Linked DNA regions of Homo sapiens: region 1 is linked to region 2. The links come from fine-mapping of genetic effects on gene expression. A gene starts in region 2. The other region holds a variant in brackets. All regions are shown on one strand. Distances are between the middles of the regions.

Region 1 (8,333 bases), 46 kb before region 2:
CAAAAGACGGAAGACGACTAAATCTGCTCTAAAAAGTAAACTAGAATTTGTGCACTTGCTTAGTGGATTGTATTGGATTGTGACTTGATGTACAGCGCTAAGACCTTACTGGGATGGGCTCTGTCTACAGCAATGTGCAGAACAAGCATTCCCACTTTTCCTCAAGATAACTGACCAAGTGTTTTCTTAGAACCAAAGTTTTTAAAGTTGCTAAGATATATTTGCCTGTAAGATAGCTGTAGAGATATTTGGGGTGGGGACAGTGAGTTTGGATGGGGAAATGGGTGGGAGGGTGGTGTTGGGAAGAAAAATTGGTCAGCTTGGCTCGGGGAGAAACCTGGTAACATAAAAGCAGTTCAGTGGCCCAGAGGTTATTTTTTTCCTATTGCTCTGAAGACTGCACTGGTTGCTGCAAAGCTCAGGCCTGAATGAGCAGGAAACAAAAAAGGCCTTGCGACCCAGCTGCCATAACCACCTTAGAACTACCAGACGAGCACATCAGAACCCTTTGACAGCCATCCCAGGTCTAAAGCCACAAGTTTCTTTTCTATACAGTCACAACTGCAGTAGGCAGTGAGGAAGCCAGAGAAATGCGATAGCGGCATTTCTCTAAAGCGGGTTATTAAGGATATATACAGTTACACTTTTTGCTGCTTTTATTTTCTTCCAAGCCAATCAATCAGCCAGTTCCTAGCAGAGTCAGCACATGAACAAGATCTAAGTCATTTCTTGATGTGAGCACTGGAGCTTTTTTTTTTTTACAACGTGACAGGAAGAGGAGGGAGAGGGTGACGAACACCAGGCATTTCCAGGGGCTATATTTCACTGTTTGTTGTTGCTTTGTTCTGTTATATTGTTGGTTGTTCATAGTTTTTGTTGAAGCTCTAGCTTAAGAAGAAACTTTTTTTAAAAAGACTGTTTGGGGATTCTTTTTCCTTATTATATACTGATTCTACAAAATAGAAACTACTTCATTTTAATTGTATATTATTCAAGCACCTTTGTTGAAGCTCAAAAAAAATGATGCCTCTTTAAACTTTAGCAATTATAGGAGTATTTATGTAACTATCTTATGCTTCAAAAAACAAAAGTATTTGTGTGCATGTGTATATAATATATATATATACATATATATTTATACACATACAATTTATGTTTTCCTGTTGAATGTATTTTTATGAGATTTTAACCAGAACAAAGGCAGATAAACAGGCATTCCATAGCAGTGCTTTTGATCACTTACAAATTTTTTGAATAACACAAAATCTCATTCTACCTGCAGTTTAATTGGAAAGATGTGTGTGTGAGAGTATGTATGTGTGTGTGTGTGTGTGTGTGTGTGCGCGCGCACGCACGCCTTGAGCAGTCAGCATTGCACCTGCTATGGAGAAGGGTATTCCTTTATTAAAATCTTCCTCATTTGGATTTGCTTTCAGTTGGTTTTCAATTTGCTCACTGGCCAGAGACATTGATGGCAGTTCTTATCTGCATCACTAATCAGCTCCTGGATTTTTTTTTTTTTTTTTTCAAACAATGGTTTGAAACAACTACTGGAATATTGTCCACAATAAGCTGGAAGTTTGTTGTAGTATGCCTCAAATATAACTGACTGTATACTATAGTGGTAACTTTTCAAACAGCCCTTAGCACTTTTATACTAATTAACCCATTTGTGCATTGAGTTTTCTTTTAAAAATGCTTGTTGTGAAAGACACAGATACCCAGTATGCTTAACGTGAAAAGAAAATGTGTTCTGTTTTGTAAAGGAACTTTCAAGTATTGTTGTAAATACTTGGACAGAGGTTGCTGAACTTTAAAAAAAATTAATTTATTATTATAATGACCTAATTTATTAATCTGAAGATTAACCATTTTTTTGTCTTAGAATATCAAAAAGAAAAAGAAAAAGGTGTTCTAGCTGTTTGCATCAAAGGAAAAAAAGATTTATTATCAAGGGGCAATATTTTTATCTTTTCCAAAATAAATTTGTTAATGATACATTACAAAAATAGATTGACATCAGCCTGATTAGTATAAATTTTGTTGGTAATTAATCCATTCCTGGCATAAAAAGTCTTTATCAAAAAAAATTGTAGATGCTTGCTTTTTGTTTTTTCAATCATGGCCATATTATGAAAATACTAACAGGATATAGGACAAGGTGTAAATTTTTTTATTATTATTTTAAAGATATGATTTATCCTGAGTGCTGTATCTATTACTCTTTTACTTTGGTTCCTGTTGTGCTCTTGTAAAAGAAAAATATAATTTCCTGAAGAATAAAATAGATATATGGCACTTGGAGTGCATCATAGTTCTACAGTTTGTTTTTGTTTTCTTCAAAAAAGCTGTAAGAGAATTATCTGCAACTTGATTCTTGGCAGGAAATAAACATTTTGAGTTGAAATCACACAGTGTAACTTGCAAAAAGATTCCATCTCTGAGATCCGAAAGACTTTTAAGGTTATCAGTCCAATGAACCCCTGGTGTAACAAGAAGTCCCGTGCTTTTGTCATTAGGCGGGTCTTTCCCAAGGTATCCTTGCAAAAAGAAAAGTGTCTCCCAGAGTACAGAGAATAGCGATGCTGTTTTTAGGGAGACAAGAAACCTACCTGCTGTCAGAAACGTGCTCATAGCTGGTATCAAAATTAACTTGCTACGCACAGGAGGACTGTGGTGGGAAATCCTACAGTGGTTCGATGCTGAAGAAGAAAGACTTTACCGAGCACGATCAGGGGAAGCCTAACTGCAAAGAGACTTTTTGAGCTGACAGGAAAAAATAAATAGGTATATTTTCATACATTTTAGAAGCATCAATTTAAGAATGAGCTATAAACAGACCAATGTTGAATCTCCTTTAAAAAAATATATCCCCCTAAGGACTTTCTACTATATCATATACCCTTTAAAGCTACATTTCTTCAGTACAAGGCGTCATTTTTACAAATTCAAATTAATTTAAATTATTAATATTACTGTGTAAGTACATGTATCTGGGGAAAGGGCCAGTAAGTTCCAAATAAGAACATTAATAAAACAAGGAAACCATCTCGAGTTTCTCATACCCCTAGAGATGATGGCTGAAATGCCAAGCAGGCATTAAACTTCAAACCGCGCCCCTGCCTTTGCAGTCATGGTGTCTCAGTTGCTGAGTGGAGTGAGGAATATGTTAGCCCTGTTTGTTTTGCTCACAGGTGTTTAAGTGGAATTGTGAAAGCCGCCTGTAGCAGGTCCTATATAGACTCTTAATTCATTCATGTCGTCTATGGGAGGGGTCTGCATGGCTGTTTTTGAAATGTCTCACAGCCCCAGAAAAAGAGCAGGACTTACTTCTGTCATTCCACAGCAGCTCAGCATACTCTAATAAACGTCCTCCTCTTCCCCTTCGTAGCATTCTGGGACTAATCAGGGTTTCATCTGCTCACATATTGTAGCGATGGGTTCTGTGTGGAATTAAGGGAAAGAATCTAGCACTGTAAGGAAAAAAAAAATACAACACAAAACTCCCAAATATAAGGCTCTCAAACATGTATTTTTACTTCTTAAAAAATTTATTAAATGCCATTGATTTGACTGGAACCAGCAAAAGTGCTCATGATATTGATGAATCCATAAGTAGCTGTATCTAGAATTCATACTTAAGAAAAACACACAGGCATGAATAAAATAGGACACAGTAATGAGAATGGGCAGTTCTGCAGTGTACACTTTCTCAAGCACCTCAGAGGACACACACT[T/TTTAAA]AAAGTACAATTCTTCACAGACACATGAAGCAGAACATTTGAAAATCAAAACTTAAATACAAGATTCTAAAAGTGAATGGCAATTTAATGGTTAAAATTTGACCAGTGGTGAAACAAGCAGCAAGCTACAAAATCCATCACCACCAACAGTTTCAATGTTAGCACTAAGTATTAAACCAAAGTAATGCATATTCTGGTTTTGCTTCTTCAAGAACAGCCCGTTTATTCTGTTTCAATCTCTCTGAACAATACTGGTAGGTAATAGTTACACTGACAATTCTCACAAAAAAACAGTGTTGGTTCTTGCCATCACTGAATTTATAGTATAAATCTCCCAAGGCTTTAATCTAGTTCATCAGTGCAGTTTAGATAAGAAAGCCATAAAAACAAATGGGCATACTGTCAGTTAATGAGAAATACAACTGCACATGCACAATTAATATTACTCTCTCTTAATCTACTAAGAGAACAGTTTATTAGTAGATTTAACAAAAACCATCTCTAGAATTCAAAATAGTGCCCATATTTCCGTTGGTTCTATAATATAAAGAATTAGTGTAGTCAAGATCTGTTAATACTGAATCAAACCCAAGTTCAAATGTGCTGAGTTTCCAATAGCAAGAAGGGTAATGGTAGCCAGCTCTCAGAATAATGCTGTCGGAAATCTAGCTTGGAGCCCACCGCAGATAAAGTTGCTGCTCTATGTAGGACACAGAACTAGAAGAAAAAGAGAACTTTTAGCTACAAATGTATATTTTGTATACATTTACACAAAACATACATTTTACATGTACATTTAAAAACCATTAAGTAATGAGAACTAAATGTTAATGCAAAGATCTATGTAGCAATTTTTTAAAGGTTTTAAGAGGCTATACCCAACAAGGATGAGTTCTCTCAACACACATTAGAATTTCCCAGAAATGAGATACCAAAAGGCCATGTCTCTTAGGGTGCCACTTGGAGATAGAAGCCCCTAACATTCGCCCTATACCATGAGGCTTGTGACACAACAAACAGGATCCCTAGGGAAGTCAAAGAAGGGTGCAAGTTTCTGCACACATTTTTATTCCTAACTAGCAGCACGGCAGCAGCCACGCGTACATTACTTCAGAATCAGCCTTGGGTACTACTGTCAAGGCAGCAGTGGCGGCAGGCTGCAGTGGGGTCATTAGGCAGGTGCGAGAAAGAGAAGCTCAATTAGCCCATACAGTGCCCACCCTACTCCCTTTTCTCAGGCCAAATGAGACCACTTTTCTACCTTCTTTCACTTCTGACATTTGCATTAAAACTAAGTGGTGTATTTAGGCAGCCAAGCCACACTCTCATCTGTGTTAAAACAACAACAAACCACCCAAAAAAGGGGAAGGAGTATTCTCCCCTTGAGCAATATCCCCCTCCCGGGCAAAGTGTCGTATTATTGGTCCCCAAGGAAGAGGAACAGTTAACCAGCTGTGAACTTTCAGGATGGGTGGAAAAGAGCATTTTCAATGACCCGACTTCCCCACCTTCCCACACACATTTGGGTAAATACATCTCCACATTGCACTCCCGTCTTCATTTTCTCTGACTACAGTCTCCACTGTAGTCTAAATCCTTGCTGCTTTTCCACCCAGTCCTCACAATACAAAGCCAAGACAAAACCACAACACATGCACACAGACAGCTCATCAGAAGCAGGTACAGTATAGATAGAACTGGGCTTACAGACAGGAGCCAGCGGCCCGAGCATGAGGAGCAGAATTAGATGGGTGCTGCTTCCCTAAGGCATGCGGTATAGGTAGGTTCACAATTATAGTCCTAGGTTTTCAGAGTAAAGAATTAAAAATCATTTTTCCCCAGAGGACTCTGTTCTTTGGGTCATAACATCCTTCCATGCAGTTAAATGCTAAAATAGCTAGAGAATGCTTCAGAAGCTCATTCTATCTCTGGCCCTCATAGAGGCCTAGGAACCCGATATAATTAAAATTTAAGACATGTTCTTTATGTTCGTCTCATTCCTGTTTCACATCTAGAAGAACGAACCTCAGAACAATCCAGCTTTCATACCAATGCTAGCACAACACAAAAGCAAACAAAGATGTCAGGTATTAAAAAAAAAATTTTTCAGAATTTTATAGGGAGAAAAAGTCCTCCATCAGAAAAAAAGCTTATTTTTTAAAATGATGTCAACTCAGTCTGTTCTACTCCAGTGTCAACCCACTAGTGTCTAGCTCATGCTTCTTACTCTCACCGCATCAAGACTCTTACAAGTGAAATGTGTGATTCACTTTGAGCACCCTGTGTATACTACTGAGGTTCCCCTTTCATGACACTATGGTTTAAGAAAAGACCATCAGAGGTTTCTAATGTCTCAGAAATCTTCATCTTCCTTGTGCTCAGCTAACTTTAATGGAGAAGAGAGAGAACCCAGAGAAGAAGACTGTTACTAGAAGAGGATTGCTCTCAAAATTTGATCAAACACTACAAAGATGCATTTTGTGATGCTTTCAAAATCTGGTCCCTGAATACCTGCTACTTTAAAAAAATATTTCATCGTAAAGTATTAATTTTGCCTCTAATTAAGTTCTTCCGTCCCTTCTTTATCATCCAAACTTTGCTCTTTTCTCGGCAAAGCAACTCAACCTCTCACTCTTCTTTTGCCTCATCAATATTCCCACCCTGTGTGAGCCTCACCTTGCCTCTAAGATTTGTGGCTGCTTTTTCACTTTCCTGGGTTTATGCAAGTCCATTCTTTTTATTTCCCCGCTTCCCTCCCTGTGTCTTACATCAGTCCCTTTCGTATTCCCTTTGGCACTGTTCACAGATGTGACTCTTCCTTCCTTCATCCGTCCTCACTAATGATCTGTCCTCCTTTCCACTGTCCTCAAGATGACAGAGACCACCCTTCTCAAATTTCCCAGTGCCAATCTGCCAACATCTGATACCCACATGATTATGGTGCCATCTCACTAATTTTCTTCTACTACCTCTCTTGATGTTTATAGTTTAACTGTGGAGATTATTTCCAACCCAGAACCTCCAATAAAACTTAAATTATATAAAACCATGATATATAATGTTGGTAGAAGTCAGTCATGTAGCTAATCCTCACCCTGCATAATAAGATTAATGAAAGTTGTGCATTGGGAAGTTACTGTCTAATGTATTAGCAAGGCGATGTATTTACTGACTAATCCAAACCTCCCAGCCATCGCACCTATACCATTATAAAACTCACCTTTCAGAATATAATCAGTTAACAAGCTCGGAACTTTTTCACTGTCCTCCTTCATGGCACGAAGAACTGCAAAATAGAAGAGGGGAAAAAAGACAACAATTAAAAATTTAGATCAAAAATATTATTTAATTTCAATCATTGTGGCCTTAATCTTCCTTAATTATAGGATATAACTGACTCATACAAATTATAGGTGATTTTCCTGATAAGGGGATACAACAATAAAGGCCCAATAATTTATTTTAGTGGAGTAAGTCCACAAGAATTTATTTTCGGTAAGAATATCCCACTTACCTGAGAGTTGCTTCCCTGATTTAAAATTTCCAAACAGTGGAGACAAAAAAAGAGGAACTGGGTTATTTACAAGGAGCCTTCGCTCTGTAATAATACCGGAAAGTGGGTTACTATAATGTGCACCTCAATGAACTCTGTGCAGCAAGAAAACCTCAGTGCTGCAGATCAAGCAAACTAGAGAAACTCTTAAAGAAATGGACAGCTATACCCTCCAACAAGCGTATCCTGTCAGACTCCTTAGAAACTTTCAAAGAAAAGACCCAAATGAAGAACAGACTTCCATGAAGCAGCATCGGGCATCTGCCTGGCTGTTGCCTCCTCTGCACTAGGGAGAAACCTGGGAGAATTAGCCTCATTCTAATTTGACAAATTTATCTTCTAAGTAAAAACTAAAATAGAAAAAGCAGCCACCTAGTATAACGTTTTTCTTTTTTAAGCTAGACCATTCAGGTTGAGATAAACTCACAAATATTATACTTTAACAGAGATTGCCAACTCAAATTTTCTCCAAAGCATCCTGGTAAAAATATTTCACTGTTTTTCCCCACCAATACGACAAGGCAAAATAGTGTAACTGTCAAATCAGCCTTCCTGGGTTTAAACCCTGGCTCTGCCACTTCCTAATTGTGTGACGCTGAGCAAGCTACTTAACCACTTTTGCACCAAGCTCTTCATCTGTGAAATGAGAATAATAATTAGATTTAATCTCAAAGGTTTGTTATGAGGACTAAGCTACTAATTCAGATATAAAGGTCATATCATAGTGCCTGGCACATAGTACATGCTATGTATTAACTGTAACTAACACTACTCAAATTATTTAAATTTTTATTAACTATTATTATTGCACCCAAAATCCCCTAATAGCTTTTATCAGGAAGACTATATATCCATAAACACTGTGACTGTCTCCACAGGGCTCTTCTTTTGGAAAGAAAAGGAGCTTTGGACCCAAATATGTCCAGAGATTCCAAACTGTGACAACCTATAAAGACATCTCGATGCTGGAATTATGATGACTTTAGTTTGACCAATGAAGTATTTGTTCTTGATCTGAGAAGCTGAGGCCTGCCAGTAATTCC
Region 2 (8,333 bases):
CAGGATACACTAGCAGGTGAAGACAGTCCAGAATTTGAGGAGTTTGCTTTGTCTGCTGATTTGCTCCTTCTTAAACAAGGCTATAAGAAAAAGGCAAATGGGATGGAATATTTCACTTAGAAGTGCCTGTCAGTGAGTTTGATCTTCCAAGAAAATGAAAGCCAACTAACAGTCTCCACCAAGGTCAAAACAATGGTAGTTGGAAGGACACAGAGGCAACTCTAGTGAAAGATTTCTAGAATTCTGCAGTCAAGACATATGAACTGCCTTCATCTTTATCACCAAGTATTACAACCAGTCGTAAACAACGGTCAGGACAGCTCTTTTGCAAGGAGGTCAAAGTCCTGCCAACATCGAATCCTGCAGAATACTCTTATAAGTAAAACCTCAGTACGTAAATACAATCCATATTTAACCAAAACAAAAGCTGAGGCTCAGAGAAGTTAAATGAAGTGCCAAGGGTCGGGGAGGGCTTTGGGGTGATTCAAGCACATTACATTTACGGTGTACTTTATTTCTATTATTACACTGTCATATATCATGAAATAATTTTACAACTCACCATAACGTAGAATCAATGGGAGCCCTGAGCTTGTTTTCCTGCAACTAGATGGTCCTATCTGGGGGAGAGGGGAAACAGTGACAGATCATCAAGCATTAGATTCTCATAAGGTGTCTGCAAACTAGAACCCTCACTTGTGCAGTTCACAATAGGGTTCACGCTCCTATGAGAATCTAATGCCGTGGCTGATCTGACAGGAGGTGGCTCAGGTGGTAATGCAAGCAATGGGGAGGAGCTGTAAATACAGATGAGGCTTTGCTCACTCACTCAGCCACTCACCTCCTGTAGTGTGGCCCAGTTCCAGTACCGGTCTGTGGACCAGGGGTTGGGGACCCCTTGACCTAAAGCACAGCAATATCTGAGTAAAACAATTATCAATTATATCTAGTGAAAAGGGAACTGGAACAGACTATCAAGCAATGATGAGTATGTTTTTGCAATATAAAAGGGACAATGCCAGTGATGACCAGCTCCCAACTCCCGGAAAAAAAGAGATTTCATATGCATTCCCAAGTCAAGAGACATGCATTACCACCAACATATCATCTACTAAATACCATTAACAAGAGCGACAAAATATTTTTAAGCAAAGGCTAAAATAACCTACTCTCCTGACGGTCTAAGTGAAACAAAAACTCTTAACGATCTACGTACAATCCTCTAATTGATTTAAGTCAGCTACTCTTGAAAAACCCAAATACATAATACATCTACACTAATTTTTAAATCCAGAATGTGTCCTGGGTTTAGTGATTCAGAGTATCTAAATCTACATATACATAAAATTATCTTCTCTTTGGGAACAGGCTTCCAAAAATGTCATCTTTTGCTACTGACGGCATGCATGTGTGTATAAAATCCAATTATAAGTGTTTCCCTTCTCTACACCTGGGCAGAACACTGTACTGAGGAACCAATAAAAGGAGATGGTCTCCAAACACAGGTGGGCCTGCACCACTGCTCAGCCATGTTTACAGGCCCCACTCCCAAGGCTGTCTTTACAAGCTTCCTACCTTATTCCTGATAAATCTGTTTGTTTCACAAAGGAAAGGAGACAATCAGGCTGGAAACTCCTTTCCGTGCCCGTGACTCCTGTCCTGTCTCTCAAAAATTCTTCCCTAACCTCTAAGAGTCTCTCCATCCCATCAATGCTCTGAAAATCCATTCCTTCCCATGTCCTCATTTTTGAGACAAAGTCTCGCTCTGACACCCAGGCTGGAGTGCAGTTGTGCGATGATGGCTCACTGCAACCTTCGCCTCCAGGACTCAAGCAATCCTGCCATCTCAGCCTCCGGGCAGCTGGGTCCGTGGGACCACGGGCATGCGCCACCGGACTTCACTAATTTTTTTTTAATTTTTTTGTAAAGACCAGATTTCACGATATTGCCCAGTCTGGTCTCGAACTGCTGGAAGCAAGCCATCCTCCCACCACAGCCTCTCAAAGTGCTGGGATCACAGGTGTGAGCCACCGCGCCCAATCTTATTCCACTCATTTTACCTTCAGCCTCTCCGGAGGCTCCTCTCCCCCTATATACACAACATGCTCAAGTCCCTTTACTCTCACCATTCCTATTTACCATCTTTTGGGGGTAAAACCATGGTACCTAATTACAACTCTTACTTAACCAAATTATAATTGCGGCTCAGGTGGTTTAAAAAGTGCCCTCAGGAACTCTGCGCCTCACCTCTCCCAGCTGTGATAAAACCCCGTGAACCTCCTATCATTGCTCTTAGGTGATTCTGTAATTATTAATATTACTTGTGTATGCCTTGGTCTCCCCACCAGACCATGCGATCGTTACCATCAGTAAGCAGGGCCCTTCGTTTTCGTCTCTGTGGCGGCTCGCACTCTACCAGGGCTCCCGGGTGGGTCCCACAGATTCCTGTGCCCTAAATGCTGCCTCGCACGTTGGTACTTATGCACAGGCAATATACTCCACCTAGAACGTTAGACTTTTTTCCACCTGCCAGGCACACTCCCACTCATCAGTCAGATCTCGTTTGCACATTTCTTTATAAAGTCGTTCCTTACTCTCCCCAAGACACACGCTTTTAAGTCTCTCACATTTGGTACATATAACCATTGCAGCGCTAATTACATCCATACATGTATTTGTTTACAAATCTATCTCCCATCCTACGTTGTGTCCTAAGTGGGAGGGACAGTGCCCAGTCGTTTTGGTGTTCCCTGTGCGAAGCAGCGCCTGGCACTCAGCAGGTGCTTAATAAATGCGACTTGAGTGAATGAATGGCGACACACGTGCCCCAGGAGGTGCCCCAGGAGGTGCCGTCTCTAACTATGGGCTCTGCATGGGCGATTCCCTTCTAATACAAACGAGGGTTTGGTTTGCAGGAAGGAGGGCGGGAGGTACCGAGGCGGAGGTTTTCAGGGCTCGTGGCGGCGGGGGGCAGGGGATTTAAATTGCTGGGCGAGCCGAGGCCGACGGCCGGAGGAAGGAGGCGAGAGGGCGGGGACTCCCGCGTCCGGGCGGAAGGAGGGCGCAGGGAGGAGCTGCGGCCGTAGGGCTGCCGGTCGGGCGAGGGGTAGGGGAGGCTCCCGCCCACTCCCGGCCGGGGCCCCGCACTCACTCGTCCCCCTGCAGGAGGCTGCGCTCCGTGATGGGCCGCACGGCCGTCCTCGGGGGCTCGGCGCCCGGATCCGAGGGGCGGAAGCACAGGCTCAGCTTCTCCTCCAAGCTGCAGGCCGGGGCCGGGAAACCGTCGGCGCCCCCACCCGCCTCGGCCCCCGCCTCCGCCCCAGGCTCGGGGCTCGCGTTACAGTTCTCCTGGTCCAGGAGGCTCCGGGCCGGCTCCTGGAACTCATAGAAATCCTGCCAGTCCCCGTCCGCCGCCATCGCCGCCCGGAGCAGTCGCGCGCCCCGCCCAGGCCGGCCCAGCCCGCCCAGCCCGGCCCCGCCCCGGCCCGAAGCCCCGCCCCCGCCCGCTACCGTGCTGACAGATCCCAGGCTGTCCCAACCCTGGGTCTCCGGTGGCCTGAGTCTTCCTGGAGTTGAACGCGGTGCTACTAGAAAGCCAAGACCTTAACTGCCTTGAGTCACTTCCTATATTCTCTATCATTTAGGAATAACTTCCCTGTTAGCTTCCCTTATTAGCAACTTGGCCTAAATGTGGCTAAAATAAAGGACTTCTTTAAACTTACGACCTAATATCAGATTACGCCCCGAAAGTCGTTTTCCCCAAGGTAACCTGCTCCTTTCCTAACTTGCCAACCAGAATAACAGCCAGAGTCAATGGGAAATGTTTAGGTGGTACCGAAGTTCATTCCTCAAATATTTTACCTCTCACGTGCAAAGCACTGGCTAGATCCTGCAGAACATACAAAGATAATTATGCCAGTTAACATTTGCAAAGCACTTAGAGCAATGCCTAATAGTAGATACCCTATGTGTATGTTATAACTAATACATGGGTGCCCCATACACAGGGCTTACAATGTCGGAGTGATAAGAGTAACAAGAAATTGTTTAGACCTCATAAAAACTAAGTGTGATTGGGCGGTTCAGTTTTGCAAGATGAAAAGAGTTATGGAGATGGATGGTGGTGATGGTTCCACGACAGTGTTAATGTGCTGAATGCCACTGATCTATACACTTACAGATGGTTAAGATAGTAATTTTATGTTTATTTTACTACAATACAAAAAAATTGGAGTAGGCCAGGCGAGGTGGCTCACATCTATAATCCCAGCACTTTGGCAGGCCCAGGTGGACGGATCGCTTGAGGTCAGGAGTTCAAGACCAACCTGGCCAACATGGTAAAACCCCGTCTCTACTAAAAATACAAAATCTAGCTGTCAGGCCTCTGAGCCCAAGCCAAGCCATCGCATCCCGTGACTTGCACATATACACCCAGATGGCCTGAAGTAACTGAAGATCCACAAAAGAAGTAAAAATAGCCTTAAGGATGACATTCCACCATTGTGATTTGTTCCTGCCCCACCCTAACTGATCAATGTACTTTGTAATCTCCCCCACCCTTAAGAAGTTTCTTTGTAATTCTCCCCACCCTTGAGAATGTACTTTGTGAGATCCACCCCTGCCCGCAAAACATTGCTCTTAACTTCACCGCCTGACCCAAAACCTGTAAGAACTAATGATAATCCATCTCCCTTCGCTGACTCTCTTTTCGGACTCAGCCCGCCTGCATCCAGGTGAAATAAACAGCCGTGTTGCTCACACAAAGCCTGTTTGGTGGTCTCTTCACACGGACGCACATGAAATTTGGTGCCGTGACTCGGATCGGGGGACCTCCCTTGGGAGATCAATCCCCCTGTCCTCCTGCTCTTTGCTCCATGAGAAAGATCCACCTACGACCTCAGGTCCTCAGACCGACCAGCCCAAAAAACATCTCACCAATTTCAAATCCAGTAAGCGGCCTCTTTTTACTGTCTTCTCCAGCTTCCCTCACTATCCCTCAACCTCTTTCTCCTTTCAATCTTGGCGCCGCACTTCAATCTCTCCCTTCTCTTAATTTCAGTTCCTTTCATTTTCTGGTAGAGACAAGGGAGACACGTTTTATCCGTGGACCCAAAACTCCGGCGCCGGTCACGGGCTGGGAAGGCAGCCTTCCCTTGGTGTTTAATCATTGCAGGGACGCCTCTGATTATTCACCCACGTTTCAAAGGTGTCAGACCACGCAGGGACGCCTGCCTTGGTCCTTCACCCTTAGCGGCAAGTCCCGCTTTTCTGAGGAAGGGGCGAGTACCCCAACCCCTTCTCTCCTTGTCTCTACCCCTTCTGTGATTTTTCTGGGGCAGGGGCAAGAACCCCTCAACCCCTTCTCCTTCACCCTTAGCGGCAAGTCCCGCTTTTCTAGGTGGCAAGAACCCCCAATCCCTTATTTCCACACCCCAATCTCTTATCTCTGTGCCCCAATCCCTTATTTCCGTGCCCCAACCCCCCTTCCCGCTTTTCTGGAGGGTAACAACCCCGAACCCCTTCCCTCCATGTCTCTACGCTCTCTTTTCTCTGGGTTTACCTCCTTCACTATGGGCAACCTTCCATCCTCCATTCCTCCTCCTTCTCGCTTAGCCTGTCCTCAAGAACTTAAAACCTCTTCAACTCACACCTGACCTAAAACCTAAATGCATTATTTTCTTCTGCAACACCACTTGGCCCCAATACAAACTTGACAATGGCTCTAAATGGCCAGAAAAGGGCACTTTCGATTTCTCCATCCTACAAGACCTAAATAATTTTTGTAGAAAAATGGGCAAATGGTCTGAGGTGCCTTACGTCCAGGCATTTTTCACACTTCACTCCCTCCCTAGCCTCTGTTCCCAATGCGATTCCTCCCAGATCCTCCTTTCCCTCCTGCCTATCCCCTCAGTCCCAACCCCAAGCGTCGCTGAGTTTTTCCAGTCTTCCTTTTCTACAGACCCATCTGACCTTTCCCCTCCTCCCCAGGCTGCTCGTCGCCAGGCCGAGCTAAGTCCCAATTCTTCCTCAGCCCCAACTCCTCCACCCTATAATCCTTCTATCACCTCCCCTCCTCACACCTGGTCTGGCTTACAGTTTAGTTCCGCGACTAGCTCTTCCCCACCTGCCCAGCAATTTACTCTTAAAAAGATGGCTAGAGCTAAAGGCATAGTCAAGGTTAATGCTCCTTTTTCTTTATCCCAAATCAGATAGCATTTAGGCTCTTTTTCATCAAATATAAAAATCCAGCCCAGTTCATGGCTCGTTTGGCAGCAACTCTGAGACGCTTTACAGCCCTAGACCCTAAAAGGTCAAAAGGCCGTCTTATTCTCAATATACATTTTATTACCCAATCTGCTCCCAACATTAAATAAAACTCCAAAAATTAGAATCTGGCACTCAAACCCCACAACAGGACTTAATTAACCTCACCTTCAAGGTGTACGATAATAGAATAAAGTTGCAATTCCTTGCCTCCACTGTGAGACAAACCCCAGCCACATCTCCAGCACACAAGAACTTCCAAACGCCCGAACCGCAGCGGCCAGGGGTTCCTCCAGAACCTCCTCCCCCAGGAGCTTACTACAAGTGCCAGAAATCTGGCCACCAGGCCAAGGAATGCCCACAGCCCAGGATTCCTCCTAAGCCGTGTCCCATCTGTGCGGGACCCCACTGAAAAATCGGACTGTTCAACTCACCTGGTAGCCACTTCCAGAGCCCCTGGAACTCTGGCCCAAGGCTCTCTGACTCCTTCCCAGATCTTCTCAGCTTAGCGGCTGAAGACTGACACTGCCCAATCGCCTCGGAAGCCCCCTAGACCATCACGGATGCCAAGCTTCGGGTAACTCTCACAGTGGAGGTTAAGTCCGTCCCTTCTTAATCAATACGGAGGCTACCTGCTCCACATTACCTTCTTTTCAAGGGCCTGTTTCCCTTGCTTCCATAACTGTTGTGGGTATTGACGGCCAGGCTTCTAAACCTCTTAAAACTCCCCAACTCTCGTGCCAACTTGGACAACACTCTTTTATGCACTCTTTGTTAGTTATCCCCACCTGCCCAGTTCCCTTATTAGGCCGAGATATTTTAACCAAATTATCTGCTTCCCTGACTATTCCTGGACTACAGCCACATCTCATTGCCGCCCTTCTCCCCAACCCAAAGCCTCCTTCGTGTCTTCCTCTCATATCCCCCCACCTTAACCCACAAGTATGGGACATCTCTACTCCTTCCCTGGCAACCGATCTCATGCCCATTACCATCCCATTAAAATCTAATCACCTTTACCCCACTCAACGCCAATATCCCATCCCACAGCATGCTTTAAAAGGATTAAAGCCTGTTACCACTCGCCTGCTACAGCATGGGCTTCTAAAACCTATAAACTCTCCTTACCATTCCCCCATTTTACCTCTCCTAAAACGAGACAAGGCTTACAGGTTAGTTCAGAATCTGCACCTTATCAACCAAATTGTTTTGCCTATCCACCCCGTGGTGCCAAACCCATATACTCTCCTATCCTCAATACCTCCCTCTACTACCCATTATTCTGTTCTGGATCTCAAACATGCTTTCTTTACTATTCCTTTGCACGCTTCATCCCAGCCTCTCTTTGCCTTCACTTAGACTGACCCTGACACCCATTAGGCTCAGCAAATTGACTGGGCTGTACTGCCGCAAGGCTTCACAGACAGCCCCCATTACTTCAGTCAAGCCCAAATTTCATCCTCATCTGTTACCTATCTCGGCATAATTCTCGTAAAAACACACGTGCTCTCCCTGCTGATCGTGTCCGATTAATCTCCCAAACCTCAATCCCTTACTAAAGAACAACTCCTTTCCTTCCTAGGCATGGTTAGTGCGGTCAGAATTCTTACACAAGAGCCAGGACCACACCGGGTAGCCTTTCTGTCCAAACAACTTGACCTTACTGTTTTAGCCTAGCCCTCATGTCTGCATGCAGTGGCTGCCGCTGCTTTAATACTGTTAGAGGCCCTAAAAATCACAAACTATGCTCAACTCATTCTCTACATTTCTCATAACTTCCAAAATCTATTTTCTTCTCACACCTGACGCATATACTTTCTGCTCCCCGGCTCCTTCAGCTGTACTCACTCTTTGTTAAGTCCCACAATTACCATTGTTCCTGGCCCGGACTTCAATCCGGCCTCCCACATTATTCCTGATACCACACCTGACCCCCATGACTGTATCTCTCTGATCCACCTGATATTCACCCCATTTCCCCGTATTTCCTTCTTTCCTGTTCCTCACCCCGATCACACTTGATTTATTGATGGCAGTTCCACCAGGCCTAATCGCCACACACCAGCAAA

Which allele goes with the higher level. Positions count from the first base shown, and alleles are read on the strand shown. Sizes are in standard deviations (SD) of each study's normalised expression.
For the expression in thyroid of the gene that starts at base 3,443 in region 2, allele T in region 1 goes with a higher level than allele TTTAAA (moderate effect, 0.50 SD a copy in GTEx).

The links. PIP is the estimated chance that this variant, and not a neighbour inherited with it, causes the effect.
Region 1: its variant is fine-mapped to the expression of FEZ2 in thyroid (GTEx, PIP above 0.99). The same link has a PIP of 0.9 or more in amygdala, prefrontal cortex, spinal cord and tibial nerve.

The regions. Positions count from the first base shown.
Region 1 is chr2:36,548,726-36,557,058 of GRCh38, forward strand. It overlaps CRIM1 (cysteine rich transmembrane BMP regulator 1), which reads left to right. Exons shown (of 17, transcript NM_016441.3): 17 at 1-2,410. FEZ2 (fasciculation and elongation protein zeta 2) reads right to left here. Exons shown (of 8, transcript NM_005102.3): 7 at 6,958-7,023; 8 at 3,533-4,454. The coding sequence ends at 4,438. Among named protein-coding and RNA genes, the nearest start is that of FEZ2, 45 kb to the right of the region's middle. The variant T/TTTAAA (reference allele first, on the strand shown) is at 3,738.
Region 2 is chr2:36,594,726-36,603,058 of GRCh38, forward strand. It overlaps FEZ2 (fasciculation and elongation protein zeta 2), which reads right to left and starts at 3,443. Exons shown (of 8, transcript NM_005102.3): 1 at 3,152-3,443. The coding sequence starts at 3,417. RefSeq lists enhancers at 2,584-3,511, 3,512-4,438, 5,366-6,291 and silencers at 2,892-3,251, 3,292-3,511.